Linked DNA regions of Homo sapiens: region 2 is linked to region 1. The links come from fine-mapping of genetic effects on plasma protein levels. A gene starts in region 1. The other region holds a variant in brackets. All regions are shown on one strand. Distances are between the middles of the regions. Region 1 holds the start of GRAMD1C (GRAM domain containing 1C). Region 2 has its middle 51 kb from the start of QTRT2.

What was found. A credible set is the group of variants that fine-mapping cannot tell apart. PIP is the posterior inclusion probability: the model's chance that the variant is causal. Protein levels are from the aptamer-based SomaScan assay of Sun 2018.
Region 2: its variant is the best candidate, but not a certain one, in a credible set for the plasma level of the GRAMD1C protein (Sun 2018, PIP 0.51).

What each region holds. Positions count from the first base shown.
Region 1 is chr3:113,836,530-113,841,913 of GRCh38, reverse strand. It overlaps GRAMD1C (GRAM domain containing 1C), which reads right to left and starts at 3,126. Exons shown (of 18, transcript NM_017577.5): 1 at 2,978-3,126. The coding sequence starts at 3,004. RefSeq lists a silencer at 2,914-3,113.
Region 2 is chr3:114,105,004-114,110,387 of GRCh38, reverse strand. No RefSeq gene overlaps it. Among named protein-coding and RNA genes, the nearest start is that of QTRT2, 51 kb to the right of the region's middle. The variant G/A (reference allele first, on the strand shown) is at 3,020.

The DNA.
Region 1 (5,384 bases):
AACAAGCTGGGCAATACAGCAAGGCCCCCTCTCTACAAAAATTTAAAGATTAGCCTGGCATAGTGGTACACACATGTAGTCCTAGCTACTTGGGAGGCTGAGGTGGGAGGACTGCCAGAGTCCAAGAGTTGGAGATCACAGTAAGTTGTGATTGCACCATTGTGCTTCAGCCCAGGTGACAGAGCAAGACTCTGTCTCAAAATAAACAAAACAGTGAGACCCTATGGACCACCACTCTCAATGCCCAGTTAAAATTATACAACCCAATATAAAACAAAACAGGGCCTTCAAGGACTAAAACTTGTTATGTAAGACCTACTTCAGCCAGGCACGGTGGCTCACGCCATGCTGTAATCTCAGCACTTTGGGAGGGAAAGCCAGGTGGATCACGAGGTCAGGAGTTCAAGACCAGCCTGACCAACATGGTAAAACCCCATCTCAACTAAAACAAAATACAAAAATTAGCTGGGCGTGGTGGTACGTGCCTGTAATCCCAGCTACTTGGGAGGCTGAGGCAGGAGAATTGCTTGAACCCGGGAGGTGGAGGTTGCGGTGAGCTGAGATTGTGCCACTGCACTCCAGCCTGGGCGACAGAGCAAGACTCTGTCTCGCAAAAAAAAAAAAAAAAGAAAGAAAGAAAGAAGTACTTTGTGAAAGTAATTATCCCTACTGCTTCTCCATTTAACAGCCCAATTTGGCCTGTTAAATTTGGTAAGAATGAATGGTACCTCATGGTTCATTACTGCATCCTCGATGATGTCATTTTACCCAGGAAGGCCCCTATACTCAACATTGTTGAAATTACTGACTATCCAGTCCACAACTAGTAAATATTTTGCTGTGATAGATTTGGCTAATATGTTCTGTTCAGTGTCTCTTTCAACACCTCCTCAGCCATAGTTGGTCTTCACCTCCAGAGAGACATAACATCTCTTTACCAGGCTAACCATAGAGTACGCAGTCTTGCCATCATACACAGCCTTTACAGGAAAGATCTTAACTGCATCAAATTTTCTCCAGGAGCACAAGTATAACATTCCATTGATGACATCCTCCCCTGAGGACAGTCTTTTGACATACTCACAAAGGAGCTCACAAAAGGAGGATGGGCTATTGTGCCACACATAGTGTAAGGCCTACCACCTTGGTTAAATTTCTGAAAATAATTTGGTCTCTGTCACCCAGGCTGGAGTGCAATGGCACAAACAGGGGTCACTGCAGTCTCAACCTCCTGTGCTCAAGTGATCTTCCTATCTCAGCCTCCCAAATAGCTAGGACCACAGGCGCCACACAACCATGCCCAGTTAATTTTTCTTTCTTTTTTTTTTTTATTTTGGTAGATACAGGGTCTTGCTTTGTTGCCCAGGCTGGTCTCAAATTCCTGTCCTCAAGCGATACTTCTTTCTGCCTTGGCCTCCCAAAGTGCTAGAATTACAGGCATGAGCCACTGCACTGGGCCACAATGGCTGACTTAAATTCAAATTCAAATTCAAATGGTGCAGGTCAGTCATCAAACATCAAGGGTGAAAAAAAGACCTGGAGCCAGTTTTTTCCTGAGGCTCTCTTAAGCCATTTTAGTGCTGCTTGAGAGGCCTGCCTTGCTCTCCCTGGAGACCTTAATTATGTAAGTAAAAGACTTTTTCAGGGCCGGGCGCGGTGGTGGCTCAAGCCTGTTATCCCAGTACTTTGGGAGGCCGAGGCGGGCGGATCATGAGGTCAGGAGTTCAAGACCATCCTGGCTAACACGGTGAAACCCCGTCTCTACTAAAAACACAAAAAATTAGCCGGGCGTGGTGGCGGGCGCCTGTAGTTCCAGCTACTGGGGAGTCTGAGGCAGAAGAATGGCGTGAACCCGGGAGGCAGAGCTTGCAGTGAGCCGAGATTGCGCCACTGCACTCCAACCTCAGGGTGTGTGTGTGGCATCATCAGTTTCTACTCCAACCTCATGGTGTGTGTGTGGCATCATCAGTTTCTACACCTGAATCAAATTTGGGATGGGGGTCCATTCTGGCTTTCTGGGGTGGCTACAGTAGATTCCTGTCTCTCTGACTTATTAGCTGTGTGGTCCTTAGCAAAGTCAATCTCTGTACATCTGTTCCTTAACTCTACAATAGAGGAAATAATTTTATCTCTAGTCTAGACAATAAGCTTATTGAGAGCAGGGATCATGTCTGTGTTAATCACCATCTAATCCCGAACACCCAGTGCCAGGGACATAACTGAATCAGTGACTGATTGGGTTCATGAATATCCAGCTTGACTATTTCATAGTAATGTTTTTCAAATCAAGTGAAATAACACTCATTCATCTGTTCATTCAACAATTATTTGTGTACCTCCACTAATCTGTAAACTATAACGCTCTTCAGAAGATATAGCACTGACCGCAGTTCTCTAAAAGTAAAATACATACACACAAACCAATGTAGAAGGAGGATGGTGTTCAGAAACGCAGGCGCCCGTCCAACAAAAGCGGGGTTTCATCCTGAATATTAATAAGCACGCTTTCCGTTTTGTCAAATAAGGTAGTAAACAAATAAAACTAGACTAGTTGAAATCAAAAACTTGGCTGACAGCACAGTGATTTAAACTATCCGGACCTTTACAACAGGGCTGAGAATGAAAGGAAGGGGGCAAGGCTGGAAAAAACGTTGACAGTGGGTCAGAATCACGACCATGGGGCCTGACCCAAGGGGGCCTGGGGCTGAGACATCCGCACCAGGACATTTCGGGACCAAATTCAAGCCCTCAACGCCCACAGGGAAGCAAATGTCCCCACCACCGCCCGTAGGGAAAGGGCTCGCAGAGGCACAGGAAACCGTTTCCTCGGTAACAACTTTCCGTATTACTCCAAAGAGCACGAAGAAAAGGGAAGGGAGGGATTAACTGTAATCTGAGAAGGTTCAAGCAATCACCGTGAGAAAAAGTAGGCTAAAGCCACAGATGGGAACCTGCCCCAGCGAGGCCCGCGGCTTACCTGACGGACAGTCGGAGCGCCCTCCATCGCGGCTCCCTCCGCCGCCGCGGCACCGCCCCGCGCGCACCGCACCGCACCGCCCCGCGCCCACCTCCAGCGCGCGCTGCGAGTTACAGGCTCCGCGCGCCTCCTCCGCCGGCCCTCCGAGTACTTCCAGCCGCAGCTCCTTGCGCCCTCTGGCGGCCGTGAAGGATTCCTGACGATGGGTGTTACCGGGTTAGCCTGAAGGCTTGTCTTTCTAGGGGTCACAATGAGACTTCCCTATTCCCAACCTCAAACTACTGTGCCTCCCAGGAAATGGCATACCCTGCCCCAATGTGCGAAAAGGTGAATTGCTCGGAAACTTTTTTTTTTTTTTTTTGAGACGGAGTTTCGCTCTCATTCCTCAGGCTGGATGGAGTGCCAAGGCCCCGTCTCGGCTAACTGCAACCTCCGCCTCCCAGTTCAAGCGATTCTCCTGCCTCAGCCTCCCGAGTAGCTGTGGTTACAGGCGCCTGCCACCACGCCCGGATAATTTTTGTATTTTTAGTAGAGACAAGGTTTCACCATGTGGGTCAGGCTGGTCTCGAACTCCCCACCTCAGGCAATCCGCTGGCCTTGGCCTCCCAAAGTGCTGGGATTACAGGCGTCAGCCACCGCCCCCGGCCAGGAAACTCTTGTTCCTTCCAATAAAGGATTGAAGTTACTGATTAACTGCTGTACGTATTGCAGATTCTTGGTTCTGTAAACCAAAAATAAAATGCCGAGGCCCACCCCCAGCCATCTAAATGGACCCCTCCTCTTGGCCAAGAGCGTTCCAAATTTAACCTGAAAATCTAGTTCAGGCCATGATGAAAGAGGGGATTGGACATGCCTCATTAACATCAACACAGACCTTAAGTCTGAGAAGAAATATTTATCATCTATTGCCTCGGACACCTGCTACTTGGAGGCTGCATCTGCATGATAAAACCTTGGTATCCACAACCCCTTATCCTAACCCAGACATTCCTTTCTACTGATAATAACTCTTTTTTCTCTTTTTCTTTTGAGACAGGTTCTGGCTCTATTAGACCAGCTGGAGTGCGGTGGCGCAATCTCTGCTCACTGCAACCTCCACCTCCCGGACTCAACCAATCCTCCCACCTCAGCCTCTCGAGTAGCTGGGACTACTGGCGTGTGCCACCATGCTTAACTACTTTGTTTGTTTGTTTGTTTGTTTGTTTGTTTGTTTTTTGAGACAGGGTTTCGCCATGTTGCCCAGACTGGTCTCGAACTCCTGGACTCAAGCAGTCTGCCCCCTTCGGCCTCCCAAAGTGCTGGGATTACACGTGCAAGCCACAGCTCCCAGTCAATAATAACGCTTTCAACCAATTGCAAATCAGAAAATTTTTTTATGTACCAATGACCTGAAAGTTCCTCCTTCTCGCCTTGGAGCTGTCTCCCCTTCCAGATTGAAACAATGTAAATCTTACATGTATTGATTGATGTATTAGGTCTGCCCAAAATATATAAAAGCAAGCTGTACCCCAACCACCTTGGACACATGTCATTGGGACTTCCTGAGACTGTGTCACAGGTGTGTCCTTAACCTTCACAAAATAAATTTTCTAAATTAACTGAGGCCTGTCTCAGATATTTGGGGTTCAGAGTTCCCAACCAAACAGCTATAAAAAAGACATTCTAAGCCAGGCACAGTGGCTAACTCATGTAATTCCAGCACTTTGGGAGACTAAGGTGGGAGGGTTGCTTGTGTCCAGGAGTTCAAGACCAGCCTGGGCAAAACAGGGGGGCCCCATCTCCAGAAAAGAGAGACAGAGAGAGAGAAAGAAAGAGAGAGAGAGGGAAGGAAGGAAGGAAGGAAAGAAGGAAGGAAGGGAGGGAGGGAAGACATTCTAGAACAATTGAGGAATAGTGAATATGAAATGGCTATTAGAGTTGATGTTACAGGATAATTAATGATTTATGTATACATTTATGGATATTCATTTATGGATAATTAATAATTTTTGGCAGCTGGGCGTGGTGGCTCAAGCCTGTAATCCCAGCACTTTGGGAGGCTGAGGTGGGAGGATCACCTGAGGTCAGGAGTTTGAGACCAACCTGGCCAACATGGTGAAACCCTGTCTCTACTAAAAATACAAAAATTAGTCGGGCGTGATGGTGAGCACCTGTAATCTCAGCTACTTGGGAGGCTGAGGCAGGAGAATCGCTTGAACCTGGAAAGTGGAGGCTGCAGGGAGCCGAGATCAGGCCATTGCACTCCAGCCTGGGCAAGAAGAGTGAAACTCCGTCTCAAATAATAATAATAAATAATAATAATAATAATAACTTGTGGCTATGTTGCAGGGTGTCTTTAATATTAGAAAACTCACACTAAAATATTTAGGAGTTCCCTGTTATCCATGGGGATGTAAAAAAAAAAAAG
Region 2 (5,384 bases), 270 kb before region 1:
CACAGAACTATTGGGGAAAAAATTAATGTGCAAAGAAATATACATTGGAAAGCATGATTCATATGTAAAAGGATATTCACTGTGTATGCTTAATCATAGGTATGCTGCCTAAAAAATCAAGGACAGGATTTTTGAACATAAAACTGGGCAGGAATGAATTAACTTTAGGGAGGATTTTGAGCTGGGAACTCTGAGTTTTTTAAATCAAAAATTGTCCTATTCCCACCCAAACAAAGAGAAAGGAAAGGCCAAGGAAATGGGTTTTCGAGAGACAGAAATATCACTGTCTTCTTAACTGATTTGTTTCACTTTTGAAAATATAATAAAGACAAAGACATCTGGGAGACCAAGATGGAGGGCGTGGAGACAAGGGCGGGGCTTGCTCAAGAGTTGCAGAGGAAGGTAAAATGAGGACGCAAAGGTTCTGTAGGATAAGCAAAGTTGTTCTATGTGGAGTAGACATAGAAGGGAAGTTTAAAAAATGCCTTATCAGATAAAAATAAATTAAATTGTGCTTTAGGAAAAGAGAGAGAAAAGCTGTGAGATACTTGTTAGAAAGAAACGATTCAATGAGAAGCTAAAAAGAGGAGTAAATCCTTTCAATCAAGAAGAAAACAAAAGCTTGCCTGGTAATCCCACCTCACTGTCTTTCCACTCACAATTATCGCCACGCCCTGAGGAATTGGAAGAGAAATTTCAAAGTTCTTGAAGTATTTGCTTAATAATGTCAATTGATGAGCAACGTCATGGGGATAGAAACCAGAACACGAGTTTTAATTCATGTTAGGGGGAAAAAAAAAAAGAAAAGCCATAGGGAGAACAAATAAATAGCTGGCTTTTGTTGTGCTTCCCTGGTGATTACACAGGTTTGACCAAACTAACTCCCAAAGGGGAGATAGAGAACTAAGAGAGAATTGGAGTACTCACTGGGCAGAAACCCTAAGTTCTGCAACACTAGATGTGGTCCATGAGATAAAAAATGTCAGCTTCCTGGAAGATCATCTCACTTTTGAAAATATTATAAAATATATCAAAAGCTCAGAATACTTAAAAGAATACCTGTATCTAATAGCTTTATCAAACATTAACATTTGGTCATTTCAAATCTTTTAAAAGAAGGGATACTTTACAAATATATGTAAACTCCTATAACATTTTCCTCCTCCCATGCCCATAAGAAATCCCTTTCTGGCATTAAATGTTTACCCCTTTTTTTTTTTTTAAGATGGAGTCTCACTCTGTTGCCCAGGCTGGAGTGCAGTGGCATGATCTTGGCTCACAGCAACCTCTGCCACCAGGGTTCAAGCGATTCTCCTGCCTCAGCCTCCTGAGTAGCTGGGATTACAGGCACCTGCCACCGCGCCCAGCCAATTTTTGTAGTTTTTTTTGTTTTTTTGTTTTTTTGTTTTTTTGTTTTTTCAGTAGAGATGGCATTTCACTATGTTGGTCAGGCTGGTCTCAAACTCCTGATTTCATGATCCACCTGCCTTGGCCTCCCAAAGTGCTGGGATTACAGGTGTGAGCCACTGCGCCCGGCCAAATGTTTACCCCTTTTCATCGTACTTTATGTTTTGTTACATACACATGTATCTCTATAATATTGGATTTCATGCTTTTAAACTTTATATTAAGCACTATTCTTTTTTATGTGAAACTTGCTTTTATCACATAAATTGATATACGTAAGTGTAGTTCATTTATTTATTTTATTTGCTACACAACCATAGTATTTTCCTGTGATATTCATTTACTTTGTTATCAAATCTTTATTGTTTTGAAAAGCTACAATGAATATTTTTGCATAAGTATCCTTGAGCATGTGTGCTGAACATTCTGTAGAACAGGGGTCCCCAGTCCCTCGGCCACGGACCCCTACTGGTCCATGGCCTGTTAGGAATGGGTCTGCACAGCAGGAGGTGAGCAGCAGGCTAGTAAGCATTACTGCCTATCAGATCAGCAAAGGTATTAGATTCTCATAGGAGCACCAACCCTATTGTGAACTGTGCACATGGGGGTGGATCCCTCATGAATGGCTTAGTGCCAAACCCTTGGTGATCAGTGAGTTCCCCTCTCTGAGTTCTGGTTGTTTAAAAGAGTGTGGTACTTCCCCCCATCTCTCTCTGGAGAGGGAGAATCGCTCTGTCACCCAGGTTGCAGTGCAGTGGCGCGATCTCAGCTCACTGCAACCTCTGCCTCCTGCTCAAGCGATTCTCCCGCCTCAGCCACCCAAGCAGGTGGGATTACAAGCGTGCGCCGTCACACCTGGCTAATTTTTGTATTTAGTAGAGACCGGGTTTCATCATGTTGGACAGGCTGGTCTGGAACTCCAGGCCTCAAGTGATCCGCCCTCCTTGGCCTCCCAAAGTGTTGGGATTACAGGCGTAAGCCACCGTGCTGGGCTGTCCCCCCATCTCTCTTGCTCCCTCTCTCACCATATGATGCACTGACTCTGCCTTTACCTTCTTCCATGATTGAAAGATTCCTGAGGCTGTCCCCAGAAGCAGATGCTGGCACCACACTTCTTGTACAGCCTGCGGAAACATGAGCCAAATAAAATCTCTTTTATAAAAAAAAAATTACCCAATCTCAGGTATTCCTTTATAGCAACACGAAAATGGACTAATGCATTCTCCAAAGCAGTTGCATTAATTTACTTTCCCATTCCCAGTATATGAAAGTTCCCATTTATCCACATTGTATTCAATCTTTTAAATTAACTACTTAATTTGCTAATCTAAAGGGTATGATTTGTTCCTAAACACTTTACAGTTTTATTGCCATTGTTGATGATATACCATTATCTATTACAGTTGCAATTTGCTTATTACTGGTATATAGAAATACAATTTTTTTATATTGATCTTGGATCTAGCAGCATTCAATGACTTTCTGATTAACTCATGTAGATTCTCTTAGATTTCCTATGTAGTCAAATATGTTGACTGCAAATAAGGTCTGCTTTGGAATGTCTTTGTAAGTTTTATACCTTCCATTATTTCTCATCTTATTGCATTGTCTC[G/A]TAGGTCCAGTAGAATGTAGAATGGTTGTGACAATATAGTGTAATAAAGTTTCATCATTAATGTTTGTAAGATTTTGATAGATACTTTTTGTGCAGTTAAGAGTATTGTCTTCTATCCATAGGTGCTAAGAGTTTGGTTGGTTGTTTCTACATAAATTGAAAAGCCTTACCCATGCTTCCATCTTAAAGTCTATATTCCTAACATTCTTCCCCCAGATATCAGCATGCCTGGCTTTCTTCCTTCACCTCTTCTACTCAAATGTCATCTATAAAAGGAACACTTTATATAATAGCAACTTGCTCCTCCTAACACTAATTCTGCTAATTTTTCCCCTTAAATGAGTAAGTATGAGAATGCATAAGGTTTATCAAACGTGCTTTCTATTTTCTGTATCTATTACATTGACCATATTTTTTCCTCTTAATTGATTGTATGTTATTCTTAGGATCAATTAATCTTGGCCATGGGGTGAGGGGGAAATATATATATATAAATAATGTATGTATATATATATAATATACATATGTATACACACACACAACATTTTATTTAGAATGTTTAAATCTGTATTTATGAGAAATACTGGTCTTTTTTTAATAGCTTTGTTACAAAAGTATAATAACCTCATAAAATGAATTGAGTGCTTTTCCTCACTATTTTTCTTTTTCTTTTTTTTTTTTATTATACTTTAAGTTCTAGGGTACATGTGCACAATATGCAGGTTTGTTACGTATGTATACATGTGCCATGTTGGTGTGCTGCACCCATTAACTCGTCATTTACATTAGGTATATCTCCTAATCCTATCCCTCCCCGCTCCCCTCACCCCACAACAGGCCCCGGTGTGTGATGTTCCCCTTCCTGTGTCCACGTGTTCTCATTGTTCAATTTCCACCTATGAGTGAGAACACCCTCACTATTTTTTGAAAGGTAGAGATTATCTGTTTGTTGAAGGTTTGTTAAATTATTCTATAAAAATCAACTGGGACTTCTGTCTTAAGGTCAGGGGCAGTGGGCAAAGCACTATGGGGTGAAGCACTTTCTCCTAATGGGACTTTGACTTTGTACTAAGAAAAGAATGGTCAGCCTAGGAACTTCTGCTGCTACCTCACTGTCCAGAACTGGTCACATGACTATCTTTGTTGCAAGAGAGGCTGAGAAATTAAGTATTTTTAGTTAGGCACATTGTCTTCCTGAAAAGAAAAATCAAGATTCTGCTATTAAGGATGACGAAAAAGCAATGGCAACTGGGTAGGCAGCCACCAATGCCTTCTACAATAAAACTATTAGATATGCTGGAATGTTGGGACCTTTCAATCTATCCTTCATGTATCTTAACTGAAGTAAATAGATAAATAAACAAATACACATCTATGTATTCAGAATAAATACACACAAACACACACACACACCTTTGTCTCTCTGGGGTATATTTTGGGTGAATTTCTCAATACTCTCTTCATCTTTCTAATTCAGTCTTCAATTTTATATAGATTAGAGTTTGTTTCATCATTATGAGTTAAATTCTATCCCCTCTCCTAAAAAAATATCTTGAAGCCCTAACCCCCAATACCTCAGAATATGGCATTATTTGGAGACAGAGGTTATCAAGTTAAAATGAGGTCATTAGAGTAGGCATTAATATAATCTGACTGGTGTTCTTATAAAAAGGGGAAGTTTGCAGACAGACACACATGCACACACAGAGACAGAGAAAGAGAGAAGAGAGAGAATGCCACAAGAAGATGAGGGCAGAGATCAGTGTGAAATGTGCATGGTGGTGCGTGCCTGTAGTCCCAGCTACTAGGGAGGCTGAGGCAGGAGAATGGCGTGAACCCAGGAGGCAGAGGTTGCAGTGAGCCAAGATCGTGCCACTGCACTCCAGCCTGGTGACAGAGGGAGACTCTGTCTCAAAAAAAAAAAAAAAAAAAAAAATCATATTAGTGTCCTAAAAACCTTTTATCCTATATTTTTACTGTACCTTTTAAAATGCTACACCTGTTTAGGGCACTTACTATGAATGGAGTTTGCAGGACTGGAAGTTGCTGTTAGTCAATGAGTGAATGATAAATGAATATGAAGGCCTAGGACACTACTGTATACTACTGTAGACTGTAGGCTGTGGACTTTATAAACACTGCACATTTAGGCTACACTAAATTTACAAAAACATTTTTATGTTTATGTCTTCAATGATAAGTTAACCTTAGCTTACTGATACTTTTTAACACATTGGACAGCTGGACAAAAATATTTTCTTTCTTTATATACTTATTCTATAAGCTTTTTTCTATTTAAATTTTTTTTAGTTTAGTTATTACTTGTTAAATCTTTTTTGTTAAAAACTAAGACACAAACACATAC